Homo sapiens: one gene and its partner. The protein of the gene in region 1 purifies or fractionates together with the protein of each later gene. This does not show direct contact. Each region holds a gene or a part of one and is shown in the gene's direction. Other genes may lie near its edges.

Evidence for each region.
Region 2: the proteins of GPX8 (region 1) and GAPDHS purify together in Homo sapiens (affinity purification with mass spectrometry; 3 studies listed by BioGRID and IntAct, with this or other methods). This does not show direct contact.

The regions. Positions count from the first base shown.
Region 1 is NC_000005.10:55,163,171-55,167,797, forward strand, and holds the end of GPX8 (probable glutathione peroxidase 8), read left to right. Parts: intron 1-884; coding exon 885-1,048; 3' UTR 1,049-4,127; downstream 4,128-4,627.
Region 2 is NC_000019.10:35,528,908-35,536,470, forward strand, and holds the start of GAPDHS (glyceraldehyde-3-phosphate dehydrogenase, testis-specific), read left to right. Parts: upstream 1-4,548; 5' UTR 4,549-4,620; coding exon 4,621-4,687; intron 4,688-7,563. UniProt on the Homo sapiens protein: May play an important role in regulating the switch between different pathways for energy production during spermiogenesis and in the spermatozoon. Required for sperm motility and male fertility.

The DNA.
Region 1 (4,627 bases):
GAGTGGTATAAATAGAAAAAAAATCTACATTTCTTACATAAATTAAGATTTATCAAAAGGATATCATGGCTGGGCATGGTAGCTCATGCATGTAATCCCAGCACTTTGGGAGGCCAAGACAGGAGGATCACTTTAGTGCCCAGGAGTTCAAGCCCATCCCGGGCAACACAGCGAGACCCTGCCAAAAAAAAAGTTATTGCTTTTCAAAATAAGGTGATTATTCACTTTGGGAGGCCAAAACCCTATCTCTACTCAAAATACAAAAATTTGCCTGGTGTGGTGGCACACACCTGTAATCCCAGCAATTTGGGATTACAACTTTGCTTCATTTTTTTTGGCTTTTAATTTTATTTGACACAGAGTTTCACTCTTGTCCCCCAGGCTGGAGGGCAGTGGTGTGGTCTCAGCTCACTGCAACCTCCACCTCCCAGGTTCAAATGATTCTACTGTCTCAGCCTCCCGAGTAGCTGGGATTACAGGTGCACACCACCACACCCGGCTAATTTTTTGTATTTTTAGTAGAGATGGGGTTTCACCGTGTTGGGCAGGCTGGTCTTAAACTCCTGATCTTAGGTGATCCACCCGCCTCAGCCTCCCAAAGTGCTGGGATTACAGACTGAGCCACGGCTCCCAGCCTACTTTGCTTCATTTCTTGATACTAAGATCACATACTAGATGAGTAGACTCATAGGTGAAGTCATCAAGTATATTGAAATCTGGTTACTCTAACCTTGAGTTTCACTTCGTTTGGGTGTTTTGTTTTTTATATTATGACAGTCCTAGAACTTGATACTAAAGTTATCATTTATGCAGATACTAATAGAAGTGAAAATCTTGACAAAGAATAAAATTATGCTCATGAAAATATGTTCTGGATATTTTAGATTCTTCAAAGAAGGAACCAAGGTGGAATTTTTGGAAGTATCTTGTCAACCCTGAGGGTCAAGTTGTGAAGTTCTGGAAGCCAGAGGAGCCCATTGAAGTCATCAGGCCTGACATAGCAGCTCTGGTTAGACAAGTGATCATAAAAAAGAAAGAGGATCTATGAGAATGCCATTGCGTTTCTAATAGAACAGAGAAATGTCTCCATGAGGGTTTGGTCTCATTTTAAACATTTTTTTTTTGGAGACAGTGTCTCACTCTGTCACCCAGGCTGGAGTGCAGTAGTGCGTTCTCAGCTCATTGCAACCTCTGCCTTTTTAAACATGCTATTAAATGTGGCAATGAAGGATTTTTTTTTAATGTTATCTTGCTATTAAGTGGTAATGAATGTTCCCAGGATGAGGATGTTACCCAAAGCAAAAATCAAGAGTAGCCAAAGAATCAACATGAAATATATTAACTACTTCCTCTGACCATACTAAAGAATTCAGAATACACAGTGACCAATGTGCCTCAATATCTTATTGTTCAACTTGACATTTTCTAGGACTGTACTTGATGAAAATGCCAACACACTAGACCACTCTTTGGATTCAAGAGCACTGTGTATGACTGAAATTTCTGGAATAACTGTAAATGGTTATGTTAATGGAATAAAACACAAATGTTGAAAAATGTAAAATATATATACATAGATTCAAATCCTTATATATGTATGCTTGTTTTGTGTACAGGATTTTGTTTTTTCTTTTTAAGTACAGGTTCCTAGTGTTTTACTATAACTGTCACTATGTATGTAACTGACATATATAAATAGTCATTTATAAATGACCGTATTATAACATTTGAAAAAGTCTTCATCATTTTCAGTATTTCTCTCTGCATTATTTTTTAGAAGCAACTCAAATTCTGTAATCATAATATTACCAAGTAAGTCAGTCTTTATTTTTGCGTGAAAATCCCAAGTGTAGAAAAAAGGACATGAGTATAAGATCATTTAACTTGATTCCTTATAGGCTGATTTGGGTTGCTAATGTATTCGTACTAGATTAGCCACTTGGGAGGAATTCAATGCTGCATCATTCTGATAGCTGAAATAGTAAAAGTCAACTCCAAACAGCCTAAATTCTAGTATAAAAAGGGGGTGATCATACAAGTCCTAAAGTGTAGATCAGCAGTCACTGAACCTCTTAGAGTCACAAGGCATTTCTTCTCCCAAAGTCATGACCTTTATATTTTGTTAGCCTTATAATTGACTAACAAAGCAACCTGCCAAGTTGGTGAAGGTTAATTATTGCCTCATGAAATATACATTCATCGCATAAAAGAATTAAATAGGAAGATGGCCAAAAATGTAAAAAAGTCGTATAAATTTGTCTAAGAAGAAAAAGACCCAATTTAAGTAGTCTGTGACTTGACTCCCAAATTCTGACCTGATGGATGAAAGTGAAGATGTTTCGTATGGCAAATTCAGTAATGCTACCTCAGTATATAGTTCTGTATACGTATTTGGACCAAAGTTATTAGATAAACCAAAAATATTTCATGAAGCATCTTCTGCTTCAGAGTCCATATCCAGCCACCCAGCTATGAATGTATTTAGAAAGATATTTGGTGGAGGTGGAATTTCTACCAGAGGTCAAGAGGATTTGTAGGGATAGCCTCAAGAATGCCAGATGAGTGTGTCAGAAAGCCTGCTCCTACCTCTCGCCAGCTGCGTGACTTTAGGCAAGTCACTTAAGTACCTTATTTCAGTTTCCTCACCTGTAAATTGAACAGGGGTTGAATGGAATAAAAAGCCCTTTGCAACTCTAAAAGTCAATTAACACACTTACTAAGGTGTTTTAAGTGACCAGGAAGGAAATCAGAACTAACCTGGATTGTTAGCGAAGAAAACAGAAGCCACCAACAAGCCTATCTGTCCTTTGCAATTTTGCTCCAAGAGCCTATTAGCAATTTGAATTCTGAGCCTCTAAGAAAACTTATGCTCAGGTGGCCCCTCCAAGTGTTGGTGCCAGAGCACTCTTGCCTTGTATCCTCACCTACGCCTTCCATGAACTCATAGCAGTGCTGTGGCACTGCAGGGGTGTTTTATGCATTCACGTTAGGAGCATGAGCAGAACTGCATATGCCAGCACCACATGGGCAGCAGAGACTCCCCACTGCCAGATGGATGATAATGGAGCTGCACTGGGAACAACCAGGACTGTCCCAGTCAACATGATACAGATGAACATCCTGCCTTAAGTCACTAGCTCTCTCCAAAGCCAGATAAAGTGGGTTTCTTCACTTACATCTCTCTAATCTTGGCTGCCTTATTCAACCTACAGACTCTATGTCAGTGCTGGATTTTCTCCCCTTGCCCTTTAGGTAAGCAGAGTAGGCAGGAGGAGATTTGAAAGCGTGTCATACATATTGCCTTGAAAGAAAGGACATTCAGGTGTCCCTTCGGGGTTCTGTAACAATTAGGCTATGTGTGCTGAGAGAGGGAGCGGAGTCATTTGCTGATGTGCTGCTACCTGTAACTCAAATGCCTCATAGGAATACCAGCGGACAAACACATAGAGGAAAAGTTGAATCTTTCCTATATTGGACAATCTTCCTTCAGTCTTGTTTCTGCATCAAAAAGTCTGGGACACAGAGTGCTACAGGATGCCTGGGCTAAGGACTGTAACAGAAAAATATCAACATCAGAGCCTGGCACAGTGGCTCACACCGGTAATCCCAGCACTTTGGGAGGCCGAGGCGGGTGGATCACTTCAGGTCAGGAGTTCGAGACCATCCTGGCCAACATGGTGAAACCCCCATCTCTACTAAAAATACAAAAATTAGCCGGGCACGGTGGCACATGCCTGTAATCCCAGCTACCTGGGAGGCTGAGTCAGAAGAATCACTTGAAAACAGGAGGCTGAGGTTGCAATGAGCCAAGATTGCACCACTGCACTCCAACCTGGGCAACAGAGCGAGACCCCATCTTAAAGACCCTGTCTCAAAAAAGAGAGAAAAAGAAAAAGAAAAATATCAGGCATCACATGAAAGAGTATTCAGCTGTCGTTCTTGTGAAAAAGGAAAAGGACAAAATCAAATGCATTTTAACTGTGGTAACTAATTCACTGACTTGAAGTTTGCTTTGTTTGTTTTCTTTGGTGCGTAGAGAAGAATACTTCATACTAACTCCTGATCATCTTACAGCAGACATAACAACAGAGTGTTAGAGACTGGAATAAATATGAATTTGGCTGAAATGTGCCCTGAAAGTTGTATTTCATTTTTTTAAATGTTTAACAATTACACTGTATCAATAGTATATATACGTGTACATATATATAATTCTTAATAACTGCAGTGTATCTAGCATATATATAATGGTGGCTGGTACATGTTTAATAGCAGACTCTGGAGGAGGAATCCTGACATACAGCATTTGCCAGCTCAATGTAAATGCTCATGCTCCCTCATGGTCAATTTCAATCTACCACTGGTTTAGTAACTAGGATGCAAAATTTCTAAAAATGTGATAATTGGTGATGGGCATGATGGCTCAGGCCTGTAATATCAGCACTTTAAGCAGCTGAGGTGGGAGGATCACTTGAGCCCAGGAGTTAGAGACCAGCCTGGGGCAACATGGCAAAACCCTGTCTCCACAAAAAAAATCAAAAAATTAGCTGGGTGTAGTGGCACATGCCTCAGGTCCCAGCTACATAGGAGGCTGAGGTGGAAGGATTGCTTGAGCCCAAAGAGGTCA
Region 2 (7,563 bases), on another chromosome or scaffold:
AACCCAGATCTTCACGTGGCTGGCTCCTCCTCATCCGTACTTGACTTAAATGCCAACTTCGCAAGAAAACCTCTCCTGACCATAACATGGCATTAATTATACTCTGTAGTATCACCCTTTTGTTTTCACAGAAAAAAAAAATCTGAAATTACCTTTATTTTTTATTGCCTGTCTCACCTACTAGCAATGTAAATTGGTCGTGTTGATCACTGCTGTATTCCTAGCTTCTTGAACACTGCCTGGGGTTCAGTAAATATTTATTGACTGGACAAATGGATGGATTCGAACAGGCCAAGGAAAGAGACTCCGAGCCCGAGTCTGGGTCTCACAGGGTGCTGGAGGGAAGGGCGCCTGGGTCGCCAGGGCAGCATAGAGTCCCTTGTGGAGTGCCGCAGATTTTGGAGGCAGGATCCCATTCCTGTCGCAGAACCCAGACCTCCTGCCTCCCAGCCCTTGGGCAAGGGCAGGGGGCTGATTGCCACGAGCTGGAACAGGACGCAGTGTCTCCTGAAAAGCCGGTTGAGGCAGCCACGGGGAGGGGCCGAAGACCCAGGGCAGCAGGAGCCTGTGAGCCAGAACCTGGGCTGGGGCCAGGCCCTCATCCTTCCTGCCCTCCCGACATGGGGCCTCCTAAGCCCCAACCTGAAGCCCCAAGTGTTGACATATTGGCTCGGGTTGGAGGGGAAACAGCTGAGAGTCTGGCCTCAGGCATGAAAAGGGCATCGGAAGGAAGGGCAGGTGGTGGTGGGCAGGCTTGGGGCAGCAGATGCATCTAGAAGCCAGTTGGGAGGGAGGCTAAGACCAGAACGAGAGCCAGTGGGTGGGTACAGTAGGTGCAGGGGTGAAAGATATTTGGGTTTTGGTGCCAAGGGGAGAGACTGAGAGAGGGGTGGAGGTGGGATTGCTGGTGGGAAGGCCAGGCAGGAACAATGTGCAGGGTGTGAGCAGCTGGAGGTGGCAGAGCTATGTGTGTGGGTGCCCAGGTGTGGCGAGAATCTGCACGTGTTTTCAGGCTTTGCTCAAACAAAGGCGCCAAGGCCCACTCCCCTCAGAGGACCCGGGGTTCCTCTCCAGCTCCTGGACACTTGACTCCACCCAAAGACAGGCATCCCAGGACAGATATCCAGAAGCTTCTGCCTTCTCTGGGCTCTGCCTATAGAGGGTGACTAAGTGTGCCACCTCTCCAAGCTTGAGCTCATCAAATCTGTTTCCCGGTTTCACACTCCAGGGACAAAGCCAAATTCCTGGGCAAACTCAGGTGTGGTTTTTCTGCCCTGGTCCAGGGCCGAAATGATGGAGTTTCCCATACCAGGAGGTGGCTGGGCAGAGAAGAGTGGGTGATGAGTGTCAGAATCCTAACCCACCCAGAGATCAAGAGGTGGGATTTCTCCCACTTTGAACTGTGTTCCATCTTCTTTTTGTGTTTTTGGAGGGAGAGTCTCACTCTATCCCCCAGGCTGGCATGCAGTGGCATGATCTCGGCTCACTGCAACCTCCGCCTCCCGGGTTCAAGTGATTCTTCTGCCTCAGCCTCCCGAGTAGCTGGGATTAGCCGGGCACCTGCCATGATGCCCAGCTAATTTTTGTACTTTCAGTAGAGACGGGGTTTCACCATGTTGGCCAGGCTGGTCTCGAACCCCTGACCTCAGGTGATCCGCCCACCTCGGCCTCCCCAAGGGCAGGGATTACAGGCGTGAGCCACTGTGCCTGGCCTGAACTGTGTTCCATCTTCTCTATCCCTCTCCACCCCATCCTTTCATCTTCTGCCAGCCTCAGTCCCTCTCCTCTGTCTCTCTATTCCCATGTGGCACGATTCGATTCAGGACTTCAGCATCTGGCTCCATAACTGAGAATGGCCTGGAGTTGTCCTTTCTTTATTTTATTTATTTTTTTTATGAAGTATCACTCTGTTGCCCAGGTTGGAGTGCAGTGGCAATCTCGGCTCACTGCAACCTCCGCCTCCCAGGTTCAAGTGATTCGCCTGCCTCAGCCTCCCGAGTAGCTAGGATTACAGATGCATGCCACTACACCTGGCTAATTTTTGTATTTTTAGTAGAGATGGAGTTTCACCATGTTGGCCAGGCTGGTCTCAAACTCCTGACCTCAGGTGGTCTACCTGCCTCGGCCTCCCAAAGTGCTGGGATTACATGTGTGAGCCACTGCACCCAGCCAAAATCAGCCCCTTTTGAATCCTGGTTTTGTTGAGGTTATATTTTTCACCTCCTTGATTGTACACCAAAATGTAGCTCCCTTTGTTTAATTAATCATCTGTGTTTTGGTCTCGGTTCGTTAAAACCTCCTCACCTGTACACTTAGTTTACTTTCTTCTCCCAGGCCATCAAAGCAGGAGAGCCTCACCCTGCCCTGGTCCCATGGCAGGTGCTTGGCAAATGAATTTCTCATGGATGTTGGCGGAAGGAAGAGGTTATGTCATTCTGCCCCTTCTTGCATCCATCCCTCTCTGGGATGGTGACTCCTTCCTGGCACAAACCCCCACTCCCCCTGAACCTTGGTCACAGCTGCGTGTCAACCTGCTGTGCAGGTGATGGTGCCTGCCTGTGAGTCACTGAGGTGCAAGCAAACCCCTACCCCGGGGCTGCAGGGGAGGGAGCTGTTTGTCCACTTGTTCTTTGTCAGACGTTCATTGAAAACCTGCTTTGTATTGTTCTAAGTGCTGGAGGCACAGTCGTGAACAAACAAACAAGAACAGGAGCCCTGTGAGGGGCTTAGAGCCCAAGGGGGAGACATCGAACAAATAAACCAATCAGTAGATCATGACAAACTACATGAAAAGCTACAAGGAAAAGAATGGGTGCTGCGAGAAGATATAACGTGAAGAGTTTGATAAGATTGGCGATCAGGGCCGGGCGAGGTGGTTCACGCCTGTAATCCCACCACTTTGGGAGGCCGAGGCAGATGGATCACCTGAGGTCAGGAGTTTGAGATCAGCCTGGCCAACATGGTGAAACCCCGTCTCTACTAAAAATACAAAAACAAAAAAAAAATTAGCTAGGTGTAGTGGCGCACGCCTGTAGTCCCAGCTACTCAGGAGGCTGAGGCGGGAGAATCACTTGAACCCAGGAGGCGGAGGTTGCGGTGAGCTGAGATCGCACCATTGCACTCCAGCCTAGGCAACAAGAGCGAAACTCTGTCTCAAAAAAAAGAAAAGAAAAGAAAAGATTAGCGATCAGATGAAACCTGAGGAATTGACATTTATTCATTCAGGTATAGTTTATTGGGCTAACGCCTTTTTCAGACAGGGTCTTGCTCTGTCTCCCAGCTGGAGTGCAGTGACACAATCACAGCTCACTGCAGCCTTGACCTCCTAGGCTCAAGTGATCCTCCCACCTCAGCCTCCCTAATAATTGGGACAACAGGCATGCACCACCACACCTGGCTACTTTTTTTATTTTTTGTAGATACAGGGTTTTGCCACATTGCCCATGTTGGTCTCAAACTCCTGGACTCAAATGATCCTCCCACCTCAGCCTCCCAAAGTGTTGGGATTACAGGCATGAGCCACTGCGTCCAGCCCACAAACACCTTTCAGGTGCCAAACACTTTTCTTGTCAATGGGATACAGAAGTGACATAGATGACGTCCCTGTCCTCTCAGAGCTTACAGTCTGGTGGACAGAGACAGTTGGCAAGAAAACAAACAATTTTTAGAGAGACATGTGCTCTAAGGAAAATAAAAACATAGACAGTGTAGCCCTAGAGAAATTTTGCACACTGAAGCATAACTCAGAATGGAGAAGTCAGACAAGGCTTCCTGGAAGATGGGCAGAAATTGGGAAGGGGGTGACGGCTGACAGTGACAGAGAAAGGAGGGAACTTAGATGCAGAGTGTAGAAAGCCTCTCTTAAAGGGTGGGAAACCAAGAGGCAGCCAAGGGAAGCCCTGGGTGGGCCTTCCAGGCATACGGAGGCAGCAAGAGTCACTCCACTGGAGAATCCAAGGGACAGCATGGAACCTGTGTGCTTCAAGAGACAGAGAAGAGGAAAGGGCTTTCAGGAACAGTGTAAAAGGTGGGATTCCAGGCTGGGTGTGGTGGCTCGCTCCTGTAATCCCAGCATTTTGGAAGGCCGAGGTGGGAGGATCGCTTGAGCCCAAGGGTTCTAGACCAGCCTGAGCAAAAGAGTGAGACCCTCTCTCTACAAAAAAATAAAAAGTAAAAATAGCCTGCAGTGGTGGCTGCACATGTAGTCCCAGCTACTCAGGAGGCCGAGGCGGGAGGATCGCTTGAGCCCAGGAGTTCAAGGCTGCAGTGAGCCATGATTGCACCACTGCACTCCAGCCTAGGAGAAAGAGTGACACCCCGTCTCAAAATAAATAAACAAATGATAATTTTAAAAAGTGGGATTCCATTCCAGACGGCAGTGCGTGGCCGTGGAACGGTGATGCATAGCGTGCTGACGTCCCATGCCTCTACGGGGATGGGATGCGATGGTGTCAGGCCTCTGGCTTGGGCGCCGCCCCTCGGCGACGTCACTGGGTACTGTGACGTCACTGGGTGCTGTGACATCAGGGCAATTAGCCCAGGACCCACAGCCCTGGCGCTCCGCACGCACCTCGGTAACATCACAGCAGGTCCAGGCCAATGATAACCTTATAAGAGGCCATGTCGAAGCGCGACATCGTCCTCACCAATGTCACCGTTGTCCAGTTGCTGCGACAGCCGTGCCCGGGTGAGGGAGGCAGCGGAGGGCGCGGGGGAGGGGTGGAAAGGGTAGTGGGGAGCGTCTGCACCCTCACACCTGTGCCGTATCCCTACCGCCCTTCCTGGCGTGTGCACCATCTAGGGACCAGGGGATCAGCCGCTCTCCCTCCCTCCACACCCGCCAGTGTGCTGGCAGAGTGGGGTTTACTGCCATGGCGGGGAGACCGGGCCTCCGCCCCCAGGGCTGGGTGGGCTTCGCGCCGCTATCACGCGGTAGAAAGAGCAGAAACGAGGGCCATCGGAGGCTGCAGCCTGAAAGTGGCGGGAAGTGGGCGGGCTTAGGAGGGGCTTAGGGAGAACCCAGGGGTGCTGGGCTTCCATGTAAAAGTGATGTTCATGGCGCTTCGCGTGAGGTGAGCTTTGCCCTCCCTGTGATGCACAAAACAAGGACACTTGGAACCTTGCCGGGGACGTGCTGACCACTTCGCAGGCGAGAGCTCAGGGAAGCCTCACCACCACCTGAGAAGGCCAGAGTGTGCCCGCAGTTTACAGAGCGGCCAACAGAGGTTAAGAGAGGGCAAACTACTTCCTTAGTCTCTCAACAAGGGCGGCGCGCCCGCGCGCGCGCACACACACACACACACACTCACTCACTCACTCTAGCCGGAGGAACCAGGTCTTCCGGTGGGCTGCCTCCATTCCCACACTGTTCCCTCACTTCCCAAGGGCGGGGGCCGCAGGGGTAGGTGGGGCTGGGGCTTTGGTCCAGGAGACCCTGGAAGACACAGGAGCAGACAGGCTTACCAGCCTCATGAGACTTGAACCCCTGCCCTGCGCATCACTGCTCCGTGGCCTCAGGCTTCATTTTCCCCTCTGTAAAGTGGGTTTATAGCGCATGCCTCTCGGGATTCAGTGGGAGGACGCAGTGAGGAGCTGGGGGCAGCACCCAGCTAGCCCCCAGGCTTTTCTCCAACCGGGGGACCCCACCCCTACAGTGGAGGGGAAGAGAGTGCAAGGCTGGGAGTGCTGGGAGAGGAGGACCATCTGAGTTTTCTTCGGAAGGGTCACCCATTGGGCTCAGATTCCCACCTGAACCAGGTGGACAAATCCCCTTTCTCCCATAGCAGAAACAACCCCCAAGGATGCAAACATCCTCAAGTTCACCAATAAACACTAACACCTTCATGAACTTGGACAGCCACTGGAAACACCTATAGTCCAGCCTCAGGCCACAAGGTCTGTGGCAACAGGGAGAGGTCAGGGAGACAGACAGGCCAGCTGGCCCCCGGCTCCCAGCCCCACCACCCCCCAGGTGCCTTTGATTTGGTGCCAAAAACTTGGACTCCCACTACCCCCTTCCAGCCCTTCTCCACCCCCTGCTGTCTCCCTTTCCTCAGGAATCTGTGTAGGATCAGACTTCCCTCCTCTATTAAAATCAGCTCCTATGTGTGGGCCTCGAGATCTCACTGCGCCCTCACAGCAGCCCCTAGGTGGGGGATCAGCCCCAAGAGGTTCATTAACTTGCTCAAATCCACAGAGCAGCAGGTCTGTGTGGACTGAGCCAGGCTTGACTTTCCAGCTTGAAACTCTCTGCCACCAGGTCCCCTGAGTCTCCACTTCTCCCCTCTTCTCAAGCCCTCCTCTGTAGCTCAGGCGGCTGCTACCTCCAGGCGCAGGTGTTTTTAAGTGCAGTCTGGGAGCAGGAGTGTGTGTGGAGAGGTGGGAGCCAATGTGAGCTTCCATGGGTTTCACAGAGTATGATACACGGTACTCTCTAAGCTTCCCTGAGGATAAGAAATGCCTGGAGTGCTTATTTTATTTTTTATTTTTTTTTGGGAGATGGAGTTTCGCTCTTGTTGCCCAGGCTGGAGTGCAGTGGCACGATCTCGCCCACCACAACCTCCGCCTCCTGGGTTCAAGCGATTCTCCTGCTTCAGCCTCCTGAGTAGCTGGGATTACAAGCATGTGCCACCACGCCTGGCTAATTTTTTTGTATTTTTAGTAGAGACGGGGTTTCTGCATGTTGGTCAGACTGGTCTCAAACTCCCAACCTCAGGTGATCTGCCTGCCTCGGCCTCCCAAAGTGCTGGGATTACAGGCGTGAGCCACCGCTCCCGGCCTGGAGTGCTGATTAAAAACAGGATTTCTGGGCCTCCATACAGACCCACTGAGTCCGATTTTTCTAGGAAGAGCCCTCCTCAGGTGATTTTTTTTTTTTTTTGAGACAGAGTCTCACTCTGTCGCCCAGGCTGGAGTGCAGTGGCGCAATCTCGGCTCACTGCACCCTCCGCCTCCCAGGTTCAAGAGATTCTCTTGCCTCAGCCCCCCGAGGAGCTGGGATTACAGTATTTTTAGTAGAGAACAGGTTTCTCCATGTTGGCCAAGCTGGTCTTGAACTCCTGACCTCAAGTGATCCACCCACCTTGGCCTCCCAAAGTGCCAGGATTACAGGTGTGAGCCACCACGCCTGGCCACTCCGACGACTCCTATCATGGAACAGTTTGGGGACCACTGGGCTAAATCAATTATTGGACAAATTCGGGGAACAATCTACAAAATACTAATGCATGTCAAACATTTCCTCGGCTTGGTCATAAGCAATCCATGTATTACCTCATTTAATCCTCACAACAACCCTCTAAGAAAAGTACTATTATCTCCCCTTACAGAGGAGGAAACTGAGGCACAGAGAATGTCACCCCAAGCGATCTATGTTGAAAGTACATACCCCGGCCAGGCGCAGTGGCTCACACCTGTAATCCCAGCACTTTGGGAGGCTGAGGCGGGTGGATCACCTAAGGTCAGGAGTTCGAGACCAGCCTGGCCAAGTGAAACCCTGTATCTACTAAAAATACAAAAATTAGCCAGGCACCTTGGCGGGTGCTTATAATCCCAGCTACTCGG